Regions from separate parts of the Homo sapiens genome. Here all the other regions are reported to be linked to region 2. Evidence: microRNA targets listed by miRTarBase, many of them from high-throughput screens and not tested one by one. Region 2 holds a microRNA gene; each other region holds the end of a gene's coding sequence.

Evidence for each region. The annotated mature microRNA hsa-miR-218-5p reads UUGUGCUUGAUCUAACCAUGU and lies in region 2 at 1,471-1,491, opposite strand. An mRNA with a match to its seed (bases 2 to 7 or 8) in the 3' UTR can be bound and repressed. Matches are read on the target gene's strand: a 7mer-m8 pairs with bases 2 to 8, a 7mer-A1 pairs with bases 2 to 7 and ends in A, and an 8mer does both.
Region 1: miRTarBase lists QRICH1 as a target of hsa-miR-218-5p. The part of its 3' UTR that is shown has no 7-base or 8-base seed match.
Region 3: miRTarBase lists IMMP2L as a target of hsa-miR-218-5p. The part of its 3' UTR that is shown has no 7-base or 8-base seed match.
Region 4: the mRNA of ZSCAN5A is a reported target of hsa-miR-218-5p. The part of its 3' UTR that is shown has no 7-base or 8-base seed match.
Region 5: the mRNA of RIPOR1 is a reported target of hsa-miR-218-5p. The part of its 3' UTR that is shown has no 7-base or 8-base seed match.
Region 6: the mRNA of RSBN1 is a reported target of hsa-miR-218-5p. Seed matches in the 3' UTR shown: 7mer-m8 at 867-873.
Region 7: miRTarBase lists STAM2 as a target of hsa-miR-218-5p. Seed matches in the 3' UTR shown: 8mer at 3,445-3,452.

Annotation. Positions count from the first base shown.
Region 1 is chr3:49,026,921-49,030,975 of GRCh38, forward strand. QRICH1 (glutamine rich 1) reads right to left here. Exons shown (of 10, transcript NM_198880.3): 10 at 2,787-3,724. The coding sequence ends at 3,532. It overlaps IMPDH2 (inosine monophosphate dehydrogenase 2), which reads right to left and starts at 2,478. Exons shown (of 14, transcript NM_000884.3): 1 at 2,333-2,478; 2 at 1,838-1,886; 3 at 1,511-1,612; 4 at 1,328-1,402; 5 at 790-996; 6 at 40-127. The coding sequence starts at 2,430. RefSeq lists enhancers at 1,611-2,213, 2,214-2,815, 2,269-2,478.
Region 2 is chr4:20,525,722-20,529,789 of GRCh38, reverse strand. It overlaps MIR218-1 (microRNA 218-1), which reads right to left and starts at 1,515; the gene lies at 1,406-1,515. SLIT2 (slit guidance ligand 2) reads right to left here. Exons shown (of 37, transcript NM_004787.4): 16 at 691-841.
Region 3 is chr7:110,659,771-110,663,838 of GRCh38, forward strand. It overlaps IMMP2L (inner mitochondrial membrane peptidase subunit 2), which reads right to left. Exons shown (of 6, transcript NM_032549.4): 6 at 2,874-3,951. The coding sequence ends at 3,832. Among named protein-coding and RNA genes, the nearest start is that of LRRN3, 430 kb to the right of the region's middle.
Region 4 is chr19:56,217,909-56,221,976 of GRCh38, forward strand. ZSCAN5A (zinc finger and SCAN domain containing 5A) reads right to left here. Exons shown (of 6, transcript NM_001322064.3): 6 at 3,395-4,068. The coding sequence ends at 3,667. Among named protein-coding and RNA genes, the nearest start is that of ZSCAN5C, 18 kb to the left of the region's middle.
Region 5 is chr16:67,546,218-67,550,277 of GRCh38, reverse strand. RIPOR1 (RHO family interacting cell polarization regulator 1) reads right to left here. Exons shown (of 22, transcript NM_024519.4): 21 at 4,047-4,060; 22 at 3,492-3,912. The coding sequence ends at 3,815. It overlaps LOC124903703 (a long non-coding RNA gene), which reads left to right. Exons shown (of 2, transcript XR_007065094.1): 2 at 931-1,059. Among named protein-coding and RNA genes, the nearest start is that of CTCF-DT, 14 kb to the left of the region's middle. RefSeq lists a silencer at 2,978-3,272 and an enhancer at 3,222-3,281.
Region 6 is chr1:113,762,209-113,766,276 of GRCh38, reverse strand. RSBN1 (round spermatid basic protein 1) reads left to right here. Exons shown (of 7, transcript NM_018364.5): 7 at 1-4,068. The coding sequence ends at 297. Among named protein-coding and RNA genes, the nearest start is that of PHTF1, 4.8 kb to the right of the region's middle.
Region 7 is chr2:152,117,004-152,121,071 of GRCh38, forward strand. It overlaps STAM2 (signal transducing adaptor molecule 2), which reads right to left. Exons shown (of 14, transcript NM_005843.6): 14 at 1-3,799. The coding sequence ends at 3,571. Among named protein-coding and RNA genes, the nearest start is that of CACNB4, 20 kb to the left of the region's middle.

The DNA.
Region 1 (4,055 bases), not on the chromosome of region 2:
GGCATTAGTTCCAGGCCCTTTCCCAGCTCTAGGACTTACCCTTCTTGCTGCGCTGCAGAATTTCATTTGCCTCCTTCAGTGTGATGCCTGCAGGGGCTACCACCAAGTCTTCCCTCTTTGTCATTATCTACGTGGGAGGTGAGATGTGAAGAAGGGCCAGTCATCGACTATGACCAGTTAACTCTTTTCTTTCCTTCCCAAGTAGCTGAGCTCAGAGGCACGCGCCACCACACCCAACTAATTTTTTGTATTTTTAGTAGAGACGGGGTTTCACCATGTTGGCCAGGCTGGTCTCAAACTCCTAACCTCATGATTTGCCTGCCTCAGTCTCCCAAAGTACTGAGATTACAGGGGTGAAGTTCTATGGACCACCACGTTCATACATTCACACCCAAAACACCCTTCCTCAAGGGATCCCAATAATTCTTAGCAGTATGGTATTGAGTGAGGGATGAGTAGAAAGGACAACATGGCACAGGGAGCACCCTCTTACACTATGGAATAAGGAGGACAACACAGGAACAATGGCAAGAAAATCAGGGCAGACCTCAAGCACTGCCCCTACCTTAGGGGTTTAAAAGAACAAAGCATGAATACTAGCAAGCATTTGGGCAGTTTGAAAGCCTCTGGTGGGGAAAGGATGCAGGAACCCAATAAAGGAGTCAGAAACTTGGTTTGACACTCCTTTCCCAGAGAGAAGAGGCTATCAGAGATGTCTTAGACAACAGAAGCCCCTTGTCTTCAACCTGGGCTGCTAGAGCTTGGATCTACTCTGCCAGTGGCACCCACCTCTTCCAAGAAACAGTCATGTTCCTCCTCTTTGAGAAAATCAATGTCCCTGGAGGAGATGATGCCCACCAAGCGGCTCCCCATCCGGCCTGTGTCTGTGATTGGGATACCGCAGAAACCATGCCGGGCCTTGGCCTCAAAAACATCCCGCACGCGATCCTTGGGGCTGAGGACCACAGGGTCTGTGATGAATCCCTGTTCATATTTCTGGAAAGGGATGGTGAGAAAGGGCATCGCATCTTTGAACTACTTTCATCAGGCTCTTGATCTGAAGCATGGGGTCTCTGCTTATCGATCCCTTTGGCAGTGCCACAAGACCAAATCACACCAACACATCTTAGAGACATGGGTAGGCTGGAGGCACTGTACACCTGGTCTATTGCTGCTGCTTTAAGAAACAGAATCTCAGGGTCTTCTCAGTAACTGAACCCCATGGTGGGAAGAAAGAATACTAAATTAGAATAAACCCCTACTCCCACCCCACCCCACCTCAGTGCAATTCCCAGGAGCGCTTGCTAATGATCGTTGCCCTTCTGACCTTCACTTTCCGAACTTCATTGGCCTGGAATTCAGGTGTACAGTTGTGGTGGATGAAGCCAATACCGCCTGTAAGCTACAGGATAAAAAGAGACTACTACTAAGTGACAAGAAGCAGGACTGAATGCCTTTGGGGAAAGGCGATGGAGTCCTTGCTCCTTCCCCCACACCCCATGGGGCTCACCGCCATTGCTATGGCCATCCCAGCCTCTGTGACTGTGTCCATGGGAGAGGAAACCAGTGGGGTCTTAAGAGTGATTTTCTTGGTCAGAGCAGAAGTCAGGTCCTGAGGAGACAAACGTCAACCAGTGTGGGAAAGCATCCCTTACACCTCAAGGTGTTACTGAGTCCCCCACAAAAAGGCACTTTTGTATGACCTGCATGCTAACAAGCAACATGATCCTATAAAATCCACCCCCAAGCCCAATCTGGTGAGTTAGCCCAGAGACCAGGTGATAGTAGCACCTTAGCTCACCTTGATGTTCAGGACCCAATTCCTGATCATACTCACCACCTGGTCTGCAGTGAAGTCGATGTACCCAGGGAGAATGAGAAAGTCACTGCGAGGGAAGGGAGTGAATTGGGAGTAAAGCTCTCAGCTTAGGGCAGCATGAGACTCCATCCCCATGTACCAATCAACCCGTAACGCATGTGAGCAGAGAGTGGCACTGACAGAGTCTGTGTGTCACAGGCACAGCACAAGGTGGAAATGGGTACAGGGGACCTTTTCTGCCACCGAGCTGTCATCAGTGCTCCTGGCACCCTGACAATTCCATGTGTCTGGAGCATGGAATCTCCGGCCTGAGATTCCAAGCACTACTGAGATGCTTCTCCGTACCCCAAGCACCGCTCCAGATGTCTCAAAGTGAGCCCCGGAGGTGGGTGGCCAATTCCCGAAACCTGTCCCCCACGCCCACGCCCAAGGCGGCTCTCGGAAGCCCCCATCTGGCCTTTTCCCCAGGGTGCCGCCCCTCTCTTCGCCCAGGTGAGCCCCATAGGCCCGCACTTGTAGGTGAGGCCGTCTCCGCAGTTGAAGAGCTGCTGTGCTGTGAGTCCGTCGTCTGGCACGTAGGACGTGCCCCCACTAATCAGGTAGTCGGCCATGGCCAACACAGGACACCGCCGCGTGTCTCCGAGGACCGCGCCGCAGAGACCTCTGCCGTCTGGGCCGCGCCAATATAAACCAGCCGATTTCGTCACTGCGCTGCGCGCGACGCTGACGTCAGGGCGTAGTGCGCGCGGGCGGAACCTACCCGCCTCGCTGCGGCGGGGGCGGAGCTGGCGCTGAAGAAACAGCGCATGCGTATAGCACATAGTGGCCTTGTCACTGAGGAGCTGCCACTTCACGTCCCACCCCACACTCCCCGCAGGACCTCGGCCAGTTCAATTAACAGGCAAGGGTTTACTTCTACTGTCCCGCCGGGCTCCTCCCCAAAATAAAGAGACGTTGTTCACTAACATGTTGAAAAGACGTGCTTGTCATTCTTAATAAACAACTAGAGTAAGAATACATAAGAGAAACAGAGTGGTATCTTTATATGATACACAAGTGTATGTTACAAGAATTCCATCAGGCACAGGAGCCTCAGGTTTTAAGGCCTCAATGTTAGGCCAACAAAAAAAAAAAAGGCATGGTAAAGTTTTTACTTTTACATCTAAAATGTCACTTGTCATAAAGGAGGGTGTAATAGAAATTGTCTTTAATAAATCATAATTGAAGTTCCCCTCATTTTTCTTCCATTAAGATGCTAAGTTTATGTCTGATCATGAAGAAAGAAAAGAACATCGTTCCCCTGTGGTCAGCAAAGTCTGTCAGCCCAGTGGAAGTCGGCTGGGGAGATTCCCTCCAGGGTCCATCCATCATTAATTCCATCTCTCTTGAAGATGGAAAGGGGCCACATTTCTTTTCACAGTCCAAGCCCTTTCCCCAGGCCCCAGACAAAAAAGAGTCAGCCAGCAACTTTCTAGGACATATGACACTCAAGGAAACCCAGAGCCACCATCGGCTGAGGAGTCTGCCGCAGCAGGTTTATGAAGATGCAAAGGGGGCAAAGTTTTCTTTTATATTTTAAACAGAAGCAGCCTGAAAGGCTTCGTAACTACACCAATAAAAAAAAGAAAAAAAAAAATGGAGGCCTCTTCTTTAGTGTGAAAGTCTGTCTGGTTTTTCCTGGCTGGTTTCTCTTGTGCCATGGCCAAGGCATCTCAGTGCATAGTGCTTGCATTGGCCACTGCGATGGCCTCCTGAATTTCTCTTATCACCAGGATCCGCGTCAGCATTTGTCCCATCTGCTCTCTGCTGATAGGCTGGACTGAGTACCAGATTGGGCTGTTGGGGGCCACCACTGGCTCAGGTGTCAGGTAAAAGGTGTCATTCCGGCCTTTCACACTCTGGGGGCTGAAGAATATGCGGATAAAAGTTGGGTACCACCAATATAACTTCAACCCTCCCACCCTGAACTTCCCAGACAGATGCTGTCTGCAAACAGTAAGGCCCCAAGTTATTGTGGCACAGCTACTGAATTCCATGCAGCCACCACACACTACATCCTGGTCCTCCTTTGGGACTACTGCAAATCCCCCAAATGTTGGGTTACTTCCCCTCTGCCCCTCCTTCCCACAAACCAGCTGTGATCCATCACTGACTGCACCAGCCTAGGGCTCTCATGGACTCATGTGAGTCTATCCTTATCCTACTTGAAGCCAGCTTCACTGCTCAAAGCGTCTAT
Region 2 (4,068 bases):
TTAGAACACTAACATTAAAGGTCCTCTTCTTATAAATAAAGTCAGTAAAGGCAAACCATGCATGGGCATAGAATCTGTAAGTGCTCCAACAAACACCTTAGCACTTAGTATGTGCAAGGTCCTATGTTAAGGCTGTTAAGTGTAAATACCATCATATTCTGCCTTTTCAGCTTTTCTTGCATTGTTCAGAAAAAGCTATCCTTTCTACTTTAATACTTGATAACCACTGAATCCTTCTGCCCGTAAGTCAATGAAGTAGTAAATTAGGTAAGACAGACTCCTTGAATCTATTGATAGTTTACAGAGATTGAAAATGGAGGCTCTCAAACTACTTTATTTAGTTGCTATAAGAATTAAATACGTTAAAAACTAAGTACTTAGAAAACAAATTGGGAATAAATAATACCCAATAAATAAGCATCAAATAAATACCATTGTTATTAGTATGAAGTGCTTACTGAATTTTGAGAGATAAATTAGTTTCTGTACTTAATCGTATGGTTGGCTAGAAAGATGAATGAAGGTAGCCTCTAATATATTCTTGTACAAAATAGAGTTATGCCAATGTAATGCATATTAATTAAAATTAATGCAATTATTAATAATAAAAATGGCAAGACAAACATTCTTATGCTTTAATGCTTTCATTCCCTCCATCCCAACCAGAATTTTGTTGGGGGATGAACTTACAACTCTGCAGTGTACTGGGGAATGTGCTCCGGGATTTTGTTGAGCTTTTGATTAGAGCAATCTACTGTGGTTCCTTCACAGCGACACTTTTCAGGGCAAGCCAGATCCGCAAAGCAGTCTCCACTTAATTTTGATCGATAATCTTCTGTACCTATTGAGAATTCAAACCAAAAAAAAGATACTGAGTCTAAAGGTTAGAAAATTTATTAGTTTGTAGGAAGAAAAAAGTAAGATAACTATAGATTATGTAGCAGGGAGACAACTTGGGGTATTTTGGTCAATGGATGTCAGGAGAAAGGTTAAAAGAAAGGCTTGGAATTTTCTGGAAAAAAGAGTGACCAGATTCACATGACAGGAAAACATTAATAAAGTTGAGCTTTTCACAGCTGTACTTTCTGCTGATCCAATTCTGAGTCATTCTAGCCTACTTCACAGCTAGTCACACAATGGATATTAATTATTAAAAAGTTTATTTTTTTTCTCGGAGTCAAGAATTGAAAATATATCCAGTAATAAACATGATCCTATATCTCATTGTAAATTAGGGCTTTCAAGGCAAATAGATATACTCAGGCTTTTAAATTTTCTATGGACTTTTTACTATTCTCTCCCTCTCACATAATCTCGGAGATGCCTAAAAAGCCCTCTTTTTTCATTTTGATTTTGTAGAAAGAGACAGGAAAATCCTGATTTAAGCCTCAGCAGCTTGTCATGCTGTAGAAAGCTGCGTGACGTTCCATGGTGCTTGACGGAACCATGTTTTACTCATACCTCGCAACCACATGGTTAGATCAAGCACAACAGAAAATCTCGCTACATTATCACTACACCAACCACTAGGCCAAAGGTAAGACCAAGAGGAAAATGGAGGGAAGGAGGAGAAAAGCTACAGACGTTCTGGAAACGTAATACTGTTTACATGACATGCATTCTTCCCGCAGAATGTTTATGACCACAGTAAGAGTATTACTACCGATGATTTCCTGGAAACACAAAGAAGGGGCTATATGGAAAAGGTGCCTCCACCATTCCTCAGAACTGCAGAATGGAAACAACAGCTTTCGGGAACAACATCCAGGAAGAAGTTGAAGGTGAGCTACAAGGACAACAGAGAAGCTCAAAAGATCTGTGGTTTCTTCTTGAAAAAAAGGTGCCAAAGACCAAGACTAGAAGAAGGTACATCAGGATTGAAAAGGGAGGGTATTATGTTTCAGATCAGACACTTTTACTTACAGCCAAAATGGTGAATTCCTGCAAAAGTAAAGATCACCAAGAAGGAAAGAAAGAGTAATCCCAATTAAGATTAATATACATATTTATAAAACTAAGCTCTCTTCCTTCTTTCTTTATTATGGGAATTATTGAAAAAATAGCATGATGTGATGGGAATTGTCATGCTTTGTAAAATTTTATAAATAATATTTTGAAGCACGGTGGTCTCACAAGAAAACCAATGTAATAAAAGATGCATAGTGCAAATTAAGTTCTTGATTCCTTTAAAAGATGAACTCTCAAGGCCGGGTGTGGTGGCTCACGCCTGTAATACTAGCACTTCGGGAGGCCAAGGCGGGCGGATCACAAGGTCAGGAAGTCAAGACCATTTCACCTGACGGGTGAAAACCCATCTCCAGTAAAAATACAAAAAATTAGCTGGGCATGGTTGCGGGCGCCTGTAGTCCCAGCTACTCGGTGAGGCTGAGGCAGGAGAATGGCATGAACTCGGGAGGCGGAACTTGCAGTGAGCCGAGATCATGCCACTGCACTCCAGCCTGGGAGACAGCGAGACTCCATCTCCAAAAAAAAAAAGATGAACTCTCTGCAAGACAGATTTTCTTTTATCACTGTAATATGTAGAGTGCCATATAAAATGGTAGTAGCGAGGTACACACGTAAAAGTGAATGAAAAACTAATCATGGAGATCCTCAAGGACAATCATTACAACATTTGGATTAATCCTTATGTTGTGATGTACACTTTTTAATGAACTTTTCAACTTATAAATAATGTGTCTTAGTGGAAATGGAATCAGAATCTCATAAGAAGTTTGCGATGGTAAATATAATCGTTTCATTACATTTGGCAGTTAATGCCATGATATTTACTGAGGATCTGGTGTCTTATGATTTATGCTTCACTCCAAAATGAAATAAGAGTGCACAAAGTCTAAGTGACAGGTACACTGGATATCTTGCAATTCAAATAATCTGCATTCAACGGAACAGTAATAATGCTTATTTTATGGTGGCTTGTTAGGTGGACTCAAATTTTAATTAAAATTTTTGGAAAAAAGGGGAGGAAGCCCAAATGATCCTTTTGAGTCCTGGCTTCTACAATTATCATGTTTAAAGAATGTAAATTAAATTATCATAAATTGAAACTTAAGACATGATATTTGATATAAAAGATAATTTCCAAATCCTATTTTGGCTGCTGTCAGTAACAGGGAAAAACTATATCAGAATATATGAAAACAACCTGACTTTTGTTCTTTATTTAGTGAATTGGAAATATTAAACTTACCAATTATTAATTAAGTATATTTAAATGAAATAGTTTGAATAATTTGATACCAATTACATTACTGCCATAATTTTAGGATTTAAATCATATTAATGTTTTATTCTATAGGTAGTCTGGTGTTTAGAATATGGCTTTTTCTGGTTAAATAATAGCTATCAGATTACTTTCCACTTAATTGGGTAAAGTAATTAATATTAAACATTGTCAATGAAGGCCAATCAACTGTTCTTTTCAACATGTTACTTGTTATGCAGCCAGTATAATAATATACAATGCTATTGATCATTCAAGCTCAAAATAAGTCATATCACCAAATCTACTAAATCCATAAAATTATACAAATTGTAATTCAATAATGGCAAGCTAACAAATATCTCCTTAAAATAGAGACTAAACCCAGAGTTCTTCTTAAGAAAATATGGAAAGTTAGACTAACTCTGTACACTAACGCTGTAGAAATATCTTTTAATCTATAGCTCTTAAAATTTTTTATAGTCTAGAATATACCCAAGAGACGGTGAATGTGGCCAATCGATACTTAACATAATGGTTTAAAACAAACAAGTCAAGAGGCATTTTACACAATTGGCAGGCAAGGAAAAATAAGTAAAGAAACGTATTTTAAAGAGCTAGTTCTAGAATCATCAGTCTTGATAGTGTTACGATTGAAGTGGTAAAACATTGCGATTACTTTTCTTAGAAACATTTTATCCATCTGCCTAAATTATTCAAGGCATTTTGTGCCCATGAACTTCTGATGCTTTCACATCACACATAAATATTCTTTTTTATGGAGTTATATTGTAATTCTGGATATAGAAGAATGTAAAGTCATAAACAAATAAGAAACAACTGCA
Region 3 (4,068 bases), not on the chromosome of region 2:
TTTCACATAGTCCCATATTTCTTGGAGGCTTTGTTCATTTCTTCTCTTTTTTCTCTAAACTTCTCTTCTCACTTCATTTCATTCATTTGATCTTCAATCACTGATACCCTTTTTTCCACTTGATCAAATTGGCTACTGAAGCTTGTGCATGCATTAAGTTATTTCTCGTGCCATGGTTTTCAGCTCCATCCGGTCATTTAAGGTCTTCTCTACACTGTTTATTCTAGTTAGCCATCTGTCTAATCTTTTTTCAAGGTTTTTAGCTTCTTTGCGATGGGTTTGAACATCCTCCTTTAGCTTGGAGAAGTTTGTTATTACCAATCGTCTGAAGCTTTCTTCTCTCAACTCATCAAAGTCATTCTCCATCCAGCTTTGTTCCATTGCTGGCGAGGAGCTGTGTTCCTTTGGAGGAGAAGAGCTGCTCTGATTTTTAGAATTTTCAGCTTTTCTGCTCTGGTTTCTCCCCATCTTTTTGGTTTTATCTACCTTTGGTCTTTGATGATGGTGATGTGCAGATGGGGTTTTGGTGTGGATTTCCTTTCTGTTTATTAGTTTTCCTTCTAACAGTCAGGACCGTGAGCTACAGGTCTGTTGGAGTTCACTGGAAGTCCACTCCAGACCCTGTTTGCCTGGGTATCGCCAGTGGAGGCTATAGAACAGCAAATATTGCAGAACGGCAAATGTTGCTGCCTGATCCTTCCTCTGGAAGCTTCATCTCAGAGGGGCTCCCAGCTGTTTGAGGTGTCAGTCGGCCCCTACTGGGAGGTGTCTCCCAGTTAGGCTCCTCGGAGGTCAGGGACCCATTTGAGGAGGCAGTCTGTCCGTTCTCAGATCTCAACCTCTGTGCTTGGAGAACCACTACTCTCTTCAAAGCTGTCAGATAGGGATGTTTAAGCCAGCAGAAGTTTTTGCTGCCTGTTGTTCAGCTATGCCCTGCCCCCAGATGTGGAGTCTACAGAGGCAGGCAGGCCTCCTTGAGCTGCAGTGGGCTCCACCCAGTTCGAGCTTCCCAGCTGCTTTGTTTGCCTACTCAAGCCTCAGCAATTGTGGACGCCCCTCCCCCAGCCTTGCTGCCACCTTGCAGTTCGATCTCAGACTGCCATGCTAGCAGTGAGCGAGGCTCTGTGGGCATGGGACCCTGTGAGCCAGGCGCAGGATATAATCTCCTGGTGTGCCATTTGCTAAGACCATTGGAAAAGCGTAGTATTAGGGTGGGAGTGTCCCGATTTTCCAGGTATCATCTGTCATGGCTTCCCTTGGCTAGGAAAGGGAATTCCCTGACTCCTTGCACTTCCTGGGTGAGGCGATGCCCGCCCTGCTCTGTTGGCTGCACCCACTGTCCGACAAGTCCCAGTGAGAGAAACCCAGTACCTCAGTTGGAAATGCAGAAATCACCCATCTTCTGCATTGCTCATGCTGGGAGCTGTAGACTGCAACTGTTCTTATTTGGCCATCTTGGAACATCCGATATATAACACATTTTTATAAGTTACTTGGTAAAATTGTTTGAAATGACTGTTGTAAAAAGTGAAAAAAAATTAATTACAAATCTCAATATTCCTGAGGTACAATCATTATTTCACATTTTACAAATTAAATGTATAAAACATAATACACACACTACACCCTGAACAGTAAACTAGCAGTAATGTTTGAGAGGAAACTATTTAAGTAACTGAAATCGTTTATACAGATTAAATTTATAATTCACAGGAGGGGAACTCCATTCATCCTAGAAGGCTCAGCCCGTGGCACCCCTCCTGTGGTGGTTTCTCCCATCCCTATTTCCCCAGGCACAATCAGATTTACAGCCCTTTCTGCTCCCATTGCACCTATTCCATGCTCTATACCTACTGCGGAATTGTATGTTAACTCTTTGCCTCTTTACAGTTCCTCCTGCCCCCACCAGTCGACTATGAGAACCTTTGTTTTATCTACTTTGATTTTCCTGTCCTTAACACAGTGCCTAGGATTCATACATTGATTGGACAGGATTTTATTGTCAATTATGAGCAATCGTATGACCAAGTTGAGCAAGATAAACCCTGCTCTAGATTAGACTACTAGTTCACAGTCTAGTAGGGGAGAAAGTATGTACACGAATCATTAACATGCAGAGTGATACATTAATGAAGGTATATACCAGGTAGAGCAGTGACTTTGCCTGGGGATGTATTCCTGAGGAAGTAACTAGTCAGCTGAGCTGTTCAACAAGCATTAGGCATTAACTCTGCTGGTGATGTGCTGGATGGCTAGTGAATAGAAAATTGAATAGAAAGAGCATTTACCTTCCCTCCAAAGATATACAATCTTGAATGAATAGTTCGAGTAACAATGGCACGGGTAGTCAATAAGGTAGCAAGGCTGATAGCCAATGGGGTAAACTGTTAAAATATTGAACTCTTCTATACCAGTGGTAAATAGCAGTCACTACCAGCACCTGTCTATTTGTTCTTTACTCTACCTCCCCTCAGTACTCCCAATCCCCTCCTATATGACCCATAGACCCTCCTGTGTTCCAGCAAGTAAAGAGTCAATACCCTTATGTACTAAACATTTTACACATAATTCCAAGGGATGCACTTTGCCAAGAAAGAAAAAAATTACAAGCTTTGAAATAGCAGTATTTGGTAAACTGCAGTTAAAAGCCAGGGTATGAAGTTCGAGTTGGGGAAAAGAGAAAATGGAACTGAAGAATTGAGAAGGGCAATGAAGAGCCACAGAAAAATTTTAAGCAGATCTGTTTTAAAAAAAATTCTGTCCAACATTAGTATGTAAGTGCTCATTAATATTTGTTGAATATGATTATGCTAATAATAATTTACACAAACCTCTAACCAATGGGAGAAAAAGAAGCTTTCATAAACATGGACTTAGATGCAGGGAATTTATTCCATTATCCATACAAATTACAGACTCTATGATTCTACTGTAACTTTGCAATTGGTGATTTCAGTATTACAGACGTGAATACTGAGAAATAATTAGGGGAAGAAAATCAAACGTGGCTGATCTGGACTGTTTTTTCTTCTATTTCACTCAGAACTTTTAAACACATAGTATGACTAAATGCGGATAAAGGGGTTTACCCATCATTGTGAATAGGCATGAGATCACTCAGAAATGTTGGATTACAAAGGGCCAATAAGAAAGGCTTGACTGTATGCAAGTGTCGACAGAATGGGTTCTCCATTACTTTGATTCCTTATTTTCAGAAGAGATAAGAAATTCCTCATTAATGGATGTACTCAATGAGAATTAAATACTCAAAACAGGACCTTAGCAAATCATTGTTTTATTTTAACATCACTGTTTACTGTTCTTCCTAACTGGCAGTTACTCCTTTGTAGATAGTACAAATCACAATGTAATTCCCATCATTATGTGTATAATATGTGTTCCTTCTTGTTCTACCTTAACAGCAAGTGACAAATACATCATTTTTATTGAATATTAATTTTCAATTTATTTCAGCAGCAAGCACCAAAATCAAAACCCAACAATCAATATAATAAGTATATGTAACAAATAATCTGAAATTCAGCCCCATTAAGACATGTGGGTGCAATATTTTTATATTCCCAAAGGTCTGCATATTTTGGGGGCATTAAACAACAGGGAACTAAAATTTAACACAAAATCAGGTGCCATTTAATACTGTTTAACATTTGAAAATTATTTATTTAATAATACAGATCGTTTTAATGTGCTGTAAATATTTCTCGCACAGCATCATATTGTCAGAAGTTTTTCCCTTTTGGAGGCTTCTTTTTTCCATTCCTTTCCAGTAACTGGCCTCCCAATGCCAGCAACTCAGGTAGATTCATGCAGTCATTCCTCTTCTCTCTGTACTGGTAAGCGCTCTGGAGGAAGAACAGATTCCAATTTCTGCCAGCGCTCTGGGGGCCACAGGATATGTGTGGCATGGGCATGCAGAAGTCCTAGGGAAACCTTAATTCATGAGAAACAGAAAGAAAGCAATAAAGAGATCATTTTATAAGAATCATTATTAATAGCTTGAAAGCAGAATTTAATCCAGGTTTAACATCCCAGGGAGAAGTGATGATG
Region 4 (4,068 bases), not on the chromosome of region 2:
CGGGCCCCGGTCCAATGCTGTCTGCGAAGAAGGGGCCCATCCATGCCCGCGTTGGCGGCAGCGCCAGGCCGATGGCGCTGGATGGAGCCCGAAGGCCGAGACCCCAAATCCCTCTGCTTTTCTAAGAAATCGCCCTCCAGTCTTTTTTTTTTTTTCAGATCTGTAACTTGTTTTCACCCCTGATTTAAAACAATACCACTGTTCTCCCCCAAATTTTCCTTTGATACAGTAGGTGAACAAAATAGATTTTTTTCCCCACAAATATCAGCAGACACTTCTTGGCACCCCACACTGTATTGGCATGGGTGTTAACAGTCCCAGTTCAGGTGTGCAGCCTTTCAGGTGGATGCACTGTAACAAGGATGTAAATGCGGAGCCATCCTAAGAATCACATTCAGTCATGGGGTTGCCCTTCCAAGCTGGCAGAAAAGGAACCCGGGCCAGGCACCGTGAACACACACAGTAACTCATGCCTGTAATCCCAGCACTTTGGGAGGCTGAGGCGGGTGGATCACGAGGTCAGGAGATCGAGACCATCCTGGCTAACATGGTGAAACCCCGTCTCTACTAAAAATACAAAAAATTAGCTGGGCGTGGTGGCGGGCGCCTGTAGTCCCAGCTACTCGGGAGGTTGAGGCAGGAGAATGGCATGAACCCGGGAGGCGGAGCTTGCAGTGAGCCGAGATCGCGCCACTGCACTCCAGCCTGGGCAACAGAGCAAGACTCTGTCTCAAAAAAAAAGAAAAAAAAAAAAAAGAAAATCGACCTGCCAGACTCAGCCACACGTTAGATCACCTGCGGAGTTTTATAAACTCTCAACACAGGGGCCACATCCTCAGCCAATCACATCATTACCTTAGGGCTGGACCCCAGGCATTGCTTTTAAAAAAAATATTAAAAACTCCTCAAGTGACTCCAACATGTAGCCAAATTAGAAAATGAAGCTCTAAAGAAACATTGGATGTCATTAATGGATCATAGAGCACCATGATTGAAATTAAACGGGCAGGTGGTATTATCAACACATTTTCTACGTCTGTGAAGAAGGTTGGACCCAATCACCAAAAGGGAGAACCACCACCCACCCCTACCTCCACTTCTTGAATGAAAGGGGAGTCTATGTACATTTTATGGTGGATTCCAGGTCCCTGCCTCAAAGAATGCTACTCCGAAACGGACCTGGGTGAGGCAGGATAGGCAGTCAAGGAAATGACCACGTCCTCAGGATGCTGCACGCGTGGTGACTGTACAGTCAACACAGTAAGCCTCAGCGTTCACATTGGAATTGAGTTCATTCAAGCAAGGCCATCTCCAGTAGGGTATTTCCACTGTAGTATTTCCACTGTAGAGAGAATGTGCACGTTGATCTTACCCATCCACAAACCGACACATTTCTTGTTATGATAGTAAAAAACACACACCTGGGCGGGCAGTTAAGACGCTAATGAGACATGTGCACAGCTACTGCACCTGTGTGCCCAGAAGAGCACCCAGAATATGCTTAGTAGTAACACCTCTTCCCACCCCCCTAGGTGTAATCATCCAAGACTCCCATAAAGGGGAGTCTCCCTCAAGCAGGTCTTTGCTGTCTCATCCTTGGGAGCAGCTGGCCCTGAATCCTTGCTCCCAGGATGTCCTGTCTATTCTGCCCTTAACTTTCAAGATATTGTATTTCCTCTGTAATCAATTATTCTATGATGCATCTCTCTGCTGTGGGTCTCTTGATTAAATTCCTTTAAATTAAGATGACAAGAACCAAAGTCTTACAAAAGTAGTCTTTAATAAATGAATCCAGCCTATTTGGGAAGGGACCTTTCCAGACCTCTGCAGATTGCAGGACTCTGCCCGTCAGCTCAATCAGCCATCCATAAAATGTCCTCCCAAGACCAGCAGCATGAGCACCACCTAAAATGTACATTCTCAGGTAATCCCAAACAAGTAAAATCTGAGAAATTGTCACCAAGAGGATCCTAGGGAGACGTGACAACTCAAGGCAATGTGGTGTCTTGGATGGGGAGGAAGGAAGAGGAGGGCATTGTGTAAACACTAAGGAGGCCTCAATAAGGTATGGGCCTTAGATCACGGCAATATATCCAGTCAGTTCATCGCTCCAGTCAGTTCAAAGGTGCCATCCTAATGAACCATGTTGGCAATGGGGGAAGCCATGTGGGGCATTAGGGAGCTCCATGGACTTTAGAAAGCTATTCTAAAATGAATTATATATTTTAATGCACACTCTCAGGCCCCATGCCCGGTCTGCTCAATCAGAAGCTGAGTCTGGGGCCCACCCACCTGAGGATTAACCACGCCTTCAGGGGATGGTAGTATCACTAAGACCAACTAGTCACCAGAGACTCCCAATGCCTCTGTAGTTCAAGAGTCAAATCGGGAATTTAGAGGTTGCCAAATTTAGGCCACAAAATACACCATCTGGGGCAGGGAGATAAATATGCAGAGCAGAGAGGATTCCGGGGGCAGTGAAAATACCCCCCAGGATACTCCAGTGGTGTGTACTCATGAGGCCTTTGTCCAAACCCACAGCACGTACAACACCCAGAGCGAGCCCTAATGAACACTATGGACTCTGGGTGGTGGTGATATGTCCAGGCAGCCTCACTGATGGAACAGGTGCACCACTCTGCTGGGGATGCTGGGCAGGGAGAGGCTGTGTTGTGTGAGGAGGGAGTCTAGGGGAACTCTGTGCTGTCCACTGAATTTCCCTGTGAACCTAAACAGCTCTGAAAAAGAAAGTCTAGAGCCAGGCGTGGTGGCTCACCCCACACCAGCCTGGGCAACAAGAAATCCCATCACTACAAAAAATTATTTCAAAAATTTGAATATCATAATTATAATAAAGTCTAATAAAAACAATACAGGGCACAGCGGCTCATGCCTGTAATGCCAGCACTTAAGGAGGCCGAGGCAGTTGGATCACTTGTACTTCGGAGTTCAAGACCAGCCTGGGCAACATATCAAAATTCCATCTCTACAAAAACCACAAAAATTAGCCAAGTTGGTGGCGTGCTCCTGTAGTCTCGGCTGCTCGGGAGGCTTAGATGGGAGGATTGCTTGAGCCTGGAAGGTCGCGGCTGCAGTGAGCGGTGATTATGCCACTGAACCTCAGCCTGCGTGACAGAGGGAGACGCCATCTCAAAAAAAAAAAAAAAGAAAGAAAGAAAAAAGAAAACGAAAACTCTACAGGATACCCAATAAAAGCTGAGTTTCAGATAAATAAATAATTTAGAACATGCTGATACTAAAGAAAATTGTTTATCTGAAACTCAAATTTCATCAGGCATTATGTATTTTATATGGCCACCCTCCTTGGACAACTGTACTTTACAGCAAAACAGTGGGTAACCCCATGTCAATCAGGAAACTCAGTTTTCCGTTATACAATATTGAAAACTAATAAGATGATCGTTTATTGGAAGAACAGCAACACAAACCAAAATAAACCTATAAGAAAACAATGGACATAATGAAACAGAAAACAAAGCTCAGTGGGGAGGACACATATTTACTCAAACATCCTGGCAATTCATATCTAGGGCACTCCCTCTGTGTGTCAGACGCCCTTGCATGTGTCAAATGTCATCTGATAACATTGATGAAAAATATCATTCACTTCTTCTTGGTGCAGAAGGCATAGACCGGATTATGCAATCACTGAGAAGTAGCTTCTGGATGTGTTTTCTGGTGGCGTCTTAACAATTTCAGCCGACTGAAGGCTCTTGGACACTTGGAACATTTGTAGGGTTTCTCTCCGGAGTGGATGCGCTGGTGCTCCTTCAGGCTCCCCCTGTAGGTGAAAACTTTCTTGCAGTCTTTACATTCGAAGGGCTTCTCCCCTGTGTGGCTTCTCTTGTGACACTTCAAGTAGGACTTCTGGGTGAACTGCTTCTGGCAGACGTCACACGTGTAGGGCCTCTCGCCAGTGTGGGTTCGCTGGTGAAATTGGAGGCTAATAAGCTGCATGAAGCGCTTCCCACAGAGATTACATTGAAAGAGTCTCTCGCCTGTGTGTGATCTCTTGTGGATGACTAGCTTGGAATTACACGTAAACCT
Region 5 (4,060 bases), not on the chromosome of region 2:
GAGGAGAAACAAGTTTTGAGAAGATGTTGAGTCTGATTTTGAGCATGTTGAGTTTGAAATGCCCCAGATGTTCAAAAGGAAGTGTCCAGTGAGCAGCTGGATGTGGGGGTCTGGAAGCAAGGTAAGAACCATGTGAATGATTGGCATGCAGCCTCAGCATGTGGATGGAAGCCAGCAGAATGGGGAGGTCATCTAGGGGTATGTTTTGAGAGAGAGGAAAGGGCCTAGAATGGAACCCTGTGGGGCGATTTTTATTTTTTAAGTAGAGACAACATGGGGTTTCACCATGTTAAGACATGCCTGAGGAGGAGGAGAAGGTTGTAAGGAAATTAAGAGGAGACAGTTAGAAACCTAGGTGTTGCGTATAGCAATTCAGCTGCTCTCAGTCAGCATTCACTGAGTGTCCATATGCCCTGGGTGTATCTGGAGACAAGTGAGACTTGACCCTTGACATTAAACTCAGAGTAGTGGCCATCACCCAATTGCCGTCAACCTTCTGAAACAAGAGACCCCTTTCTCGCAGGCCAATGTCAGTCCTATTTTCTAAATGATAGATTGTGCTTCATTAGCAGTTTATATGAGGCACTGGAGTCCTTCCCAAGCTTACCCTCCTGTATCACCCAGGCCCAGAAAAGCCAGGCCTTGCAGCCAAGCCAAGAGCCTTCTGTCCATGGGAGATGGATGGCCTGAAAGGGACACTCCAGGATTGTCTGGGGTGGGGAGGGGGGTATGGAGGGAAAGGAGGGTCATGTCATATGTCTGGGGTTCAGCAAATTGTACCCACATACCAGGCACAGAAACATACAAGGAAGGCACCCCCGCTCTGTGGGCGAGACAAAGCAGCAATCCTCTTCCCACATGCCAACCCATCTTTTTCTTTGCCTTCACAAACGTGCCTTTTTTCTTTCTTCTTTTTTTGGTCCTCTGCAGCTTGGAATACATGAGGAAGAAGAGTGGGAGACAGGAGGAAAGGTAAGGTTGGGAGAGGGCAAGAGGAAAGGAGGAGAGTAGAGGGAACACTCCATCGATTGCCAGCACAATAAACTGTATCATGGACTACTTCAGCCTGGCCCCTGCTTTGCAGTGTGCGTGGAGCAGTTTCCTCTGGGCAGAGTCTCAGAGATGATGGCCAAGGCGACTGTGGCCTCAATGGACTTAACTGATAGGGCACTTCTCAGTGTGTCACAGGCCTTGGAGGCCCACTTCCATCTGTCCCCTCAGAGGCTGGGCAGACGCTTTCCCTGCCCTGATACCTTTGACTCATGATGGTATCGTCAACTGCCCATCACCTGAGGCAAGGGGCTCCCAACTGTCCTCAGTCCCAAACAGCAGGAACACCTGCCTCCCTGACCCACATGACAGCAGGGTAGGGGGTGGGAGAATGCTATGGGCAGGTTTGCCCTGTGGGAGGCCCCTGTGAGGCAGAGGGGGTCAGGAGAGATACAGAGGTGGGAGGACAAGGGTTCTCTCTGCCCCTCCACCATCTCAGGAACCTGGGCATGGGCCTGGGTGTAGGAGGCCATCCAGCCTGCCTTCAAGCCACTGATGGAGAGAGGCTGACTGGCTGTCCTGGGGTTGATTCATGCTGCTCTGAGCCAGATAGGCATCATGTGCTTCACCTGGCTGTGCTCACAGTGCCCTCATTCCAGCTCCTGTCCCCTTCCGATCCTCACACCCACCCCTGGCTAGAGCTGAATACTAGGCTCTGGCCTCAGGACTCTGCAGAGCACAGAGTCTAGGGTCTGTCCCTTCCCAGCATTGGAGAGCAGGGATTCTTAGTGACAACGCCAGTGGACCCCTTGGCTGGGATGATGACATTTTTCCATCCTCCATTTCTTGCCCAAGCCCTGCTCTCTCCTGTGTACTGAGCTGTGAGCTCATGCAGGCTCAGTCACCCCCATCTGCACTTTCCCAGGACCTGGTCAACCAGTGTTCACTTCCTCTTCCCCCACCATGACAGGCTATGCTTTTGATGCAGGTGGATAGCCCTGCTCTACCAATGGGCCTCTTGTGGGGGCCTCAGGACTGAGGGCTGCTAGGGGCGGTTCTGGGATTGCCGGCCTCCTCCAGGGACCCCTGGGGCAGGCCCCAGCTGTGGCCAGCCTTGGGTGCTGGCCTGGTCTCCATCATTTGTTTGCCTCCTCTGCCCCATGCTGCTCCAGCTCACCACCCCAAATACTGAGCTGCACCATCCCGTGCCACCCTTCGTTACCCAGAGAGCAAAGAGCCGCGCCAGTGTGCAGAGGGCTGCCTGCCTGCCCCTGCCCACCCTCGCCCCAGCGTCTGGAATGAGCCACTTGCATCCACACAGGTGCTTCCTGTGCTTCTTCCTGTTGCCGTTTTTTCTGCTCAGCTTGGCTTCCCCAGCAGGTGGTTAAAGCCCCAGCCAAACCTCTTCATACCTAGCTCTAAAACACTGGGGGGCAGGGCTCCCTGGGGATCTGGGTCACCCTCCAGAGGACTGTTGGCACTTCACTGGCTCTTCCTGAGGGCAGGCTCCCCAACGTGACACGTCCTGCACAGGCCAAGCTGCTGCCACAGGTACTGGGACATCAGAGTGGCCTCAATGAGTCAGGGAAGTGCTGCGTATGCACCACCTCCTTGCCCCTGGATACTGGAAGTGCTGAGGGAGAGGGGAAGGGTGGAGAGCCTGTTTCTCTAGCCACGGGTGTGGGCCTCCCTCAGCCCCTCCTTAGAACAGGCCTGCCATCCTGAAGTCCCACCCCACACTCCAGTTCCTCACGCAGGACTCAGCCTTCTGGGGTTAACACATTCACTGGCCAGGCAGCTCTGGGGCAAGGCGAGGCGGGGCAAAGGCAAGCCCTCTCCTGGGATCTCTGCTTCCTGAAGCAGCACAGGTTGGCCGGCTGTTGGGGATCACAGAGTTCAGGCACGTTTGTTATTATAGAGGGGGAGACAGCTGGAGAGGGAAGGGACTTGCTGTCTTGGGTCACAGGTTAGCCATCCAGGTCTCCTGCCTCCCAGGTCCCAGCTCTTCCCCTCCGCAAGGAGCTCCTCTCCCCTGCCATCCAGCTTCAAGGAGCTCCTTCAGCCCCCTCTGCAGAAAGCTGCCCAGGCTGCAGAAGACCCAAACCTGGCATCTGCTGACGCGGATCTGCTGCCCCCTGGTGGGCAGAAGCTCCAGCCACCCCGTGCCTCCTTTCCCTTCCTGTTTTTCCTTTCCCTTCCCCTTTGCTCCCAGGCCACAGCCTGGGATTGGCACCCTTTGGTGTTTTCTGGGCCAACTCCAGTTTAGCTCCACCTTGGGCCGTAGTTCCCAGGCCCAGGGTAGGCCCCACCTGCAGGCTGAACCACCCTTTTCCCCTGCTCTCTTCTCCAAGCCCAGTTCCAGCCTCTGGGCTTTCTTCCACCTGAATTTCCAGGGCAAGTGCACATGGCACTGTCACAGCTGCAGTGTGAACACACCAGTGTCAGGCAGGGCCACAGCCAGAGGGTGTTGGAGCAGAGGGTCAGGAGTGTACCAGGCCATGTAGGAAAGACATTTTGCTTTTTTATTTTCTGTAAAACTCTGTAAATAAAATACAAAACCAAGGGATGTGGCTGGGCAGCGGCAGGGTGGCCAAGCCCCAGACACTGATTTGTGGCAAGGGATGTGCTGAGCCGAGGCTGGGAGGCACTTGACTGCAGGCACTGACTCTCCAACCCCAGGGGCAACAGAAGAATATATTAGATTTTCATTGCTAGGAATCTGTGGGGGAGGGGTATCTGGAGCCAGCCCTTACCCTCCCTGCCAGTGCCTGGTGAGCCCTGAAAGTGGGGGGAAAGGGGCACCAGGAACCCATGGGTGAATAGTTTAGAATGCTGTGCTGGCCATGCTGCCAGGCCCAAAGATGCGGGGCAGGGCGTCCAGGGACTCCTCCAGCCGTCGATGGGCAGACTGTCCCTCTTCTCCTGTAATGAGTGAGGATGAGGTCAAGGGTGGCCCTAGCCCCATCCCACTCTCCCACCCCTGGCGCCATCTCTCCTACTCCCATCAGCCAAGATGTCCCAGAACTCCACCCATCTCTTCCATCCCCCAGCCTCACCACACTGCTGTAGG
Region 6 (4,068 bases), not on the chromosome of region 2:
CACCCTGTTGTGGAAGCCACTCAAAACACAGAAAGCAATTCTAACATGGACTGTGGTTTAACTGGAAAGCGAGAATTAGAAGTTGACTCCCAATGTGTGAGGATAAAAACTGAATCTGAAGAAGCATGCACAGAGATTCAGCTGTTAACAACTGCTTCATCATCTTTCCCACCTGCATCAGAACTTAATCTACAGCAAGATCAGAAGACTCAGCCTATTCCAGTTTTAAAAGTGGAAAGTAGACTGGACTCTGACCAGCAACACAATCTGCAAGAACATTCAACCACTTCTGTGTGATATGTACATATTCAAACACATTTTTTAACTTTTTTAAATTTTGATGTGAAGTTATAGTTTTATAACTGGCTTAAGTTAAGTTTTATTGGAGAAATCTTGCCTATAATTCTATAAAGAGAAATGACATTCCACAAATGTCAAGCATATCTTTTTTACACAGATTATGCAAAGTTAAGAGTTGTATCTTATCCCGTTAGTACAGTATGTAATAGTGGGTCTGCTGCTACTTTCTGTTTTAAGGTGTGAGGTAACAATTCAATCTCTTCTTCAAATCAAAATGAGAATTCTCTGGAATAACAGATTCTTGTTTGGTAAATTATTCACTTCCCTTAATTTTATCTTGCCTTGTCTCTTGCCATATTTGCTGTTTTTATGGATAAATAAGATTTATGGTTTAGTACTTGTGTCTTTATGGCACAGGTTCAATTTCTACAGTGAAAATGGCATAGGTTGCAGGAAAGAATTTCTGCATCTGGTACATGGGCAAGTAAGTTATTTAGTTCTAACCACAAATAACAAGTAGTTTCCAAGGAAATTTCAGTGGCTCTCTGGTTTCTTAACAAAAGAGAAAGCACAGCACTTTCTGATCCAAACTGTCTTTTTTTTGTATCTGTTATTTAAAGCCCAGTGGATATTTCAATTAAAAAAAAAATCTAAAGATGAATAGTCCTTGGTCATTCATTATCCATGGCTCATTAATCTCTTCTAGAATATATGCTAACTGTTGAAGATATTTTGGGTAAAAGAGATAATGTTGACATGATACTCTATTGTTCTGCTTCCTGGCATCCTCACATTTTGTGGGGATAATTTTGCTTCCTAAACTGATCACAACTATTAAACTTAGAGAATAATAATAGTCTTTCTGATGAGGCTGCCATATTTTGAGCATCAATCTTATGATAAACTATTCTTGTCACTTGGCATCAACCTCTTCATGATAAATATCTACTACTGAGACACTTCAATTCACAGTTTTAACTGGTGAATACCTGGGTTTATTTACTATTACTCTGTGTTGCTATTTTCTAAGAAAGAATACAGCACTAGACTTCATCCTAGAGTTTCAGGTAGGCTAATGCTTAGTGCCTGAGTATTTAAATTTTCTTTTCAAACAGGCACAGTTCACATTGCTAGTATGGTCCTAACTTTCTGTTATTTTAGAATGTTAACATGATTCACATTATACTTTCTCTTAGTTAATAATACAGTAGGCCTTTTGTTTATTAATGGAAGAGTACTCCCCACACCTAAGACCAGATTCTTATATCTCCCTGGTTACAGTGCAATTTGGAGATTTTTTTTTTTTCCTGGATGGTAAGATTTGAAATATTTACATTAACATAGGCAAAAAAAAAAAAAAATACAAGATGCTGCTTTATTATGTCTGTCACCATGAAAACTTAGCTGCATCTTTTGAAATATCAAATATGAATTTTCTCTAAAATATTCTGAAATAGGTTAAATCTTATATAAATATTACTTTGTGCAATATTGTTGTGTAGTTAAATGCATATTAGCAAAGTATAGAGGTCACTGTGTAAACCGATAGAAAAGTAACCATCAGCAAATACTGCAGTGATTAGTTAGAATCTGTATTATTCCTTATATATATGTATATGTATGTATTCTCTGTTACAAAGGATGAAGACAAATAGGGATACATTTCAATGTAAACCATTTATGAATTGGAAGTGATGTTGGCTTTAGTTATCTTTGTAAATAAGGTAATTAGAATGGTATGAAAGGTAATGTGATTATTGCAGGGGTGTTTTTAAATCTTGGGTATAAATTCTAGGGTAAATTCCAGTTTATCCAGACTAGTTTTTAACGGGACCTGCCTTTGAGGGTGTTTTTTGTTATTTTGTTGGGGAGGGGTTTAATCACAAAGTGTGTGGGTTTGGGTTATTTCTTGTTTTTATTTTTCTGTCCAGAAGAGCTTTACCAGGCTGTGCAAAGTAAAATTCTTCTCAGGCAACATTTGCTTTTAAAAATAATCATGAAGAGAAGGCTGTTAAAGCAAAAATTTTTTTTTTTTAATTTTTTCTTGTCTTCCAAGATCCGATTTCCCCATCTCCCACTTGCCATCCAGCAGATGCCATCTGTCATCCAAGCTGGTCATTGCTAATAAACAAGGAGACTGTCTCCTGACAGCCAGCACTGTGTATTATCACTCAGGAACCAGCGGATCTGCAAAGACCTACAATCAAAAGCAAATCCCCATTTTCCTTTTATAAAACATTCTACCCTCACCTCCAATATAAACACATTAAAAGAGTACAATAAAAATGTTTAAAATCATGTACTAATAAATTCATTGTATGTTAGAATTGCAATAGAATGAAGAGAAACATTTAGCTAGTAACGTGATCTGAAAACTGAATGTCCTATGTGAGTATTAGATTTTAATAGCATGCTTTAAAGACTGATGAGTATAAAAGCAGAAGTTTTGCGTTTTTTACTGCTTTCAAAGCTGTATCCTAGTTTAGTGATACAAATGATTGCAATTTTTCTAAATCATTAAATTATTTGGTTTGGTGGAGTGAGGCATGGAGCAATCTGGCGTCTTCTGATTTGTTAAAGTAGTGATGGCAGTGAAGTTGTAACTGAAATTTAAGCTGATCTTCCTTTTTGGTATATTATCCGTTGTGCCAGCTCTTGAGATTACTTGCACAATGTGGCTATAAGTTTTAATATTTTGTGGAGCAGAGGGATGGTTTTTAAATGTGCTTATGGAAAGGACCCAATAAATGAATATTCCTAACTTAGTAAAGTAGAATAATTTCATGGTATTCATTAAAAAGCATAAAAGTCTTCCTCTTGCCCCAGAAGTAATTCTCTATACCAAGATATGCTAGGAGTAGGATGATGATTCAAAGTGGTAACCCAAATTCATAAAGCAATAATAATAAAAACCTATATAGTATGTTCTCTCCTCCAAAGTTTTAACTCTAAAAATTGGTTCCTAGGTTTAATTGTACCTTTAATTTGCTTATTCAGTACTTAGAATTTGTTTAACTGGTACTTTTATTATTTTTTAGTGAAAGACTTTTGAAAAGTGCCCTTTCCCCTTAAGAGACAGTTGGAATACCAGTTGACTAATATTACAAGCTCTTGTAGGGGGAAAAAGGAGCTTATTAAAGTTGTTTACTAAACTTTAGGAAAAGATGTCTTGCATCAGTCTTACTAGGCATAAAAGTCACACTTAATGACTGGAAAAAACTTGCTTATTGCCTTTCCCTATATAAATATTAATTGTCTAGAATGAAAGCTAATATAGGAACAAGACTCCCAAATCCATGAAAACGCTTAGTGAATATATTCTTAATCATTAATAAATTAGCCCATTATATTTTCATCTGTATTTGCCATAAAAAATTTATTTGCATTTATGCCTTTAGGATAATTTTGTATCTTTCTAATCTGTTTTATCATTGCTACAGGTTTTTAAAAAAGAACCTTTCACTAGCTAGCACATGCCAGAGGTTCACATCTGTTTTGTTTTTCAAACAGGTCGTAGCTGTATTTATTGGCCATGCAAGTAGAGGAAATGCACAGTACAAATGTTTTTCTTTAGCACGTAAGGGACCTATCCTTGTCTTGAAAGTTTGTTGCTTTAAAAGCAAGTATCTCTCCATAAATATTATGGCCTTCCATTTTCTTCATACATTTTTTAGGATCCACTTGTGCATGTAGTTGAGACCACTGTCTCTTAAAATATAGCACTTTTCAATTCTCTCTAAAGAAATACTTATGTACTACTATCACATG
Region 7 (4,068 bases), not on the chromosome of region 2:
GGGGTGAGGGGTGGCTACTGTTAAGTCACATTGTGACATTCCAGGTGTACATGAAATTTGGAGGGACACTATTCACTATATCACACAAGCAACATAATGCCTCTTTTGACACAGTAAGATTTTAAAAAAAAGACTCTCAAACTTTAATTCAGCTTGATAAAATTAGAATTCTTCTTCTGGGGAATTTTCTTTTTGAGACAGGATCTCATTCTGTCAGGCCGGAGTGCAGTGGCGTGATCACACCTCACTGCAGCCTCAAGCAATACTCCCACCTCAGCCTACTGACTAGCTGGGACTACAGGTGCACTACCACACCTGGCTAAGTTTTAAAATTTTTGTAGAGATAGGGTCTTGCCATGTTGCCAGGTTGGTCTCAAACTCCTAGCCTCAAGCAATACTCCTATCTCAGGCTCCCAAAGTGCTGGGATTATAGGCATGAGCCACTGTATCTGGCCTCTGGGGAAAACTTTTAGAAATATACTTTTAATTTTTGAAAGAAAATTAAACCAAACAAAAATCAAATCCCTAAAACTGAGTATTCCCATTTACTAACTGGCTAAAACTGATGATGAAAGAAGAAAAAGTACCTTCCGATAGAAATAAAGCATTATAGATCAGTGCTATTTATAATTTATTACTTATCAAAGTAACTCCAGCTTTCTTATAGCAATTCAATAAGCCCTCTCCTAGAACTCAGGGGCTTTTAAATTTATGTTTTTACTAAGAAAACCTTTTTAAAAAAAATCCCTAAGCTATATGTTTTTAAAACATTTAAAATTGATTTTTTAAATTTTGAAAGTGAAATTATAACCATCTTCAAAACATACAGTAAAATGTATTACGTAGACAAGTATCAATTATTTCAAACAGCATGACAATTTAACTACAAATAATTTCAAATCCTAACAAATATAATTACCTAATGTTTAAGTAATTTTATAAATAAATTACCAAATTAGAAGACAGTATTGGTTGACTACATTTTACAAACTATAAGAATATATCCCACACTTCATATATTTTAACACCCTGGGGTATTTTTCTGCATTAATAAAATTCATTCTATTATAAATTTTCAGGAATTCTTTCTGATGTACCAAGATTTCATATGAAAAAGCAGAAGCTATTTTTTTATTTCTGATATAAAACAGTAAGTATGAACCCAATGTAGAAATCTGAAGTTAGACAATTCCCTTTGGCAGAAAACAATTATAAACAGGTCTTAATATAAATAGAATCCATAAGCCCATAAAAAGGGAAGTACACAACCCTGTGTTTCTTAACACCGAAAGAATCATCAGTACACAGATTTAAAATCATTTTTATCTCTCGACAGCCTGCAACACAAAATTACATATGGCAAAAAATAATTTTTAACTTGAGAAAGAAAAAAACTTCTGCACATATAAACTTTCACCGATGTGCCAATATATACTATATATTTATATATATATATATGTGTCATGTTTTATTATTCTAAAACTACATTATTTATAATGGCTGATCCCAATTTAGTGGGTGTGCAGTAATTATATTGGCTCAAAGACATGCTGAATTAAACTTTTATAATTGAGATCACAATTATACATGAAATACACAAACATTAAAATAAGTTTATTAAATAGAGTTTGGGAGAAAAAAAGTAAGAAATTCCATATATATGCAAATGTTGACTATTATCGAGAGCAGCTTTGGATTTTTTTTAAATGTTTTTTAAAAATTATTATTTTGTAAATAACAGAAGATTTGTTTCCAAAAAGTAAGGTGCCATTCAGAAGTATATAATTGAATTAACATAAAGGAAAATACTGAATAAAAAACAGAACATGAGATATTAAAGGTTAAAACTTTCTGTTCAGTTATTTGTATCTGAAGTTAAGACAATGACATAAACTGAGCTTTCAAATACTGCTAATTTTTCCACTTAAATGTAGATCAAGTACCATATAGACTATTTTGTTCTAGAATAAAGTTTCTTTGAAAAAGGAACATATTTATAATCAAATTTCTGTAGATAAATGGCAAAATTTTCAGAGAACTAGCTTGAAATGGATTTAGTAGAAAGAATGACTGCTTCCTTTAAAAAAACAAATATAGAAATCTTGCTTCCACGTAACTTTTTAAAAACTAATGTCCATTGTTTTTCCCAATCTGAATATGTTTCCATACATGTATGTATTTGCAATTTCTATTTTCCAATATGTAAAAAGTTGGTAGACAATGAAGTAGTGTGCAAATTTTTAGGAGAGAAAACAATCCCTACTGGTTTACTACCAAACTCTCACAGTTATATAGAATCTATTAGCACTATAAACTAACTCAAAATGCAGGCTTCAGAAAAACTGCTTCAATAGCCTCCCTATCAATCTGTCGCCTTCTATGAAGTCTTCACCTGCTATTATTCCACAGGCTGAGAATTACTTCTGAAAGAAATGGTCAATTTTTTCAACAGCTTGGTATGTTGACAGCTTAGCAACGGTACTTGAATCACCTCTTTAAAAAAACAACACACCACTAAAAACACACTTATCATCCATGCTTGGTATATCTCACAACAAATTATTAGGAATGTCTCATGGTTCAAATTCACACGCAATCCCATAAAAAGGATATGCAGCATCTCTGCACACCACATTGCAGGAAGAAAAACAAATGGACCATATCTTCATTAGAGAATAGCCAAAATCACTTGAAAAGGTTATTAGTGACAATTCTAAATACCAGAGATACATGTAGGAAAGAAAATGTTTTTCCTCAGGGAATGGAAATGTTTTGTGGGACATTCCTTCACAGTTGGCATGACTGTTTGGGGGACTGACTAAATGCTTTATCACACATCTGCATTTACAAGGTCTTCACTGTTAATCACAGAAAACATTTTTGTTCCTTCCAGATTGCTCTTGCTTCTGTAGACAATTATATGCTAATTATTATTCAACATAACAGTGAGAGCAAAAGTGACAATACTGCAAACACAACCGCAATTTAAGGAGCCAAAAAGAAATATGCTGGCAAGCTAAATGCTTACACACAAAAAAGTTAGACTTTTAAAGTGTGTGAGAAACTCTGAAAAAAATATTTCAAGTTCTTCAGTGCTCTTATGACATTTTAGGGGGAAACAGTGGTTTCTTTAAAATAATATTTTAATCCTCCTATCTCATACTGTTTATAAGTATGAGATACTTTTGACAAACTCACTCTGTCGATCATGCTACTGCACTCCAGCCTGGGTGACAGAGCGAGTTTGTCATAAGTATCTCATACTGTTTGTCATAAGGCTACTTAATGAGTATCTAGATTTATGTAGAGAAATCTGAAAGTAAGACAAAACTAACTGAAAGCATCTTTAAGCTGCCTCTGATGAAAAGATTGACTTCAAACAAACTGGACTGAAAAAAAAAAAAAAAAAAAACCTTTTATGGCCTTGTAGAATAAGAGAGGTTTTTGTGCTTTATTTATTCATGGTCCTTTTGAGTTGAGAGGGAAAAAAGTTTTAATATTTTCAGGTTGGTATCACAAGGACTGAATAATACACTTATGAAGGCTTTCAAGAAAATGCTTGATTTGTTTCTAAAGGAGAGGCTGCTGATGGTAATTTGTGTGCTGCTGTGCAACTGGATGAGCTGGAACTGTCACCGGAAAGCCTGCCAGTTGAGGCAAATTGGAAGTAGTGTTCTGATAAGATGACATATCCACAGACATCCCCATTTGCTGTGTGTAAGCAGTTGTACCAGTAGCTGACTGTAGGTTAGAGTTCTGGTTCATATAAGTAGGATTGGAAACAGTGTCTTGTCCAGTGCTACAAACAAAATTTTAAAAAGAAAACCATATTTACTTTGCAATATATAAGGTTAGAGATCAATCATCATGACAAAAATGCCTTTTCCATCTTCTTTTTAAGCTTACGTAGCTCTGCTGTTCTGATTACAATTTAATCATTCCAGCCATTGAATACTGTTAATCAAATTTTCTTCTTCTTATTTTTGAGATGGGATCTTGCTCTGTTGCCCAGGCTGGGGTGCAGATCATAGCTCACTGCATTCTCAAACTCCTGGGCTCAAGCAATCC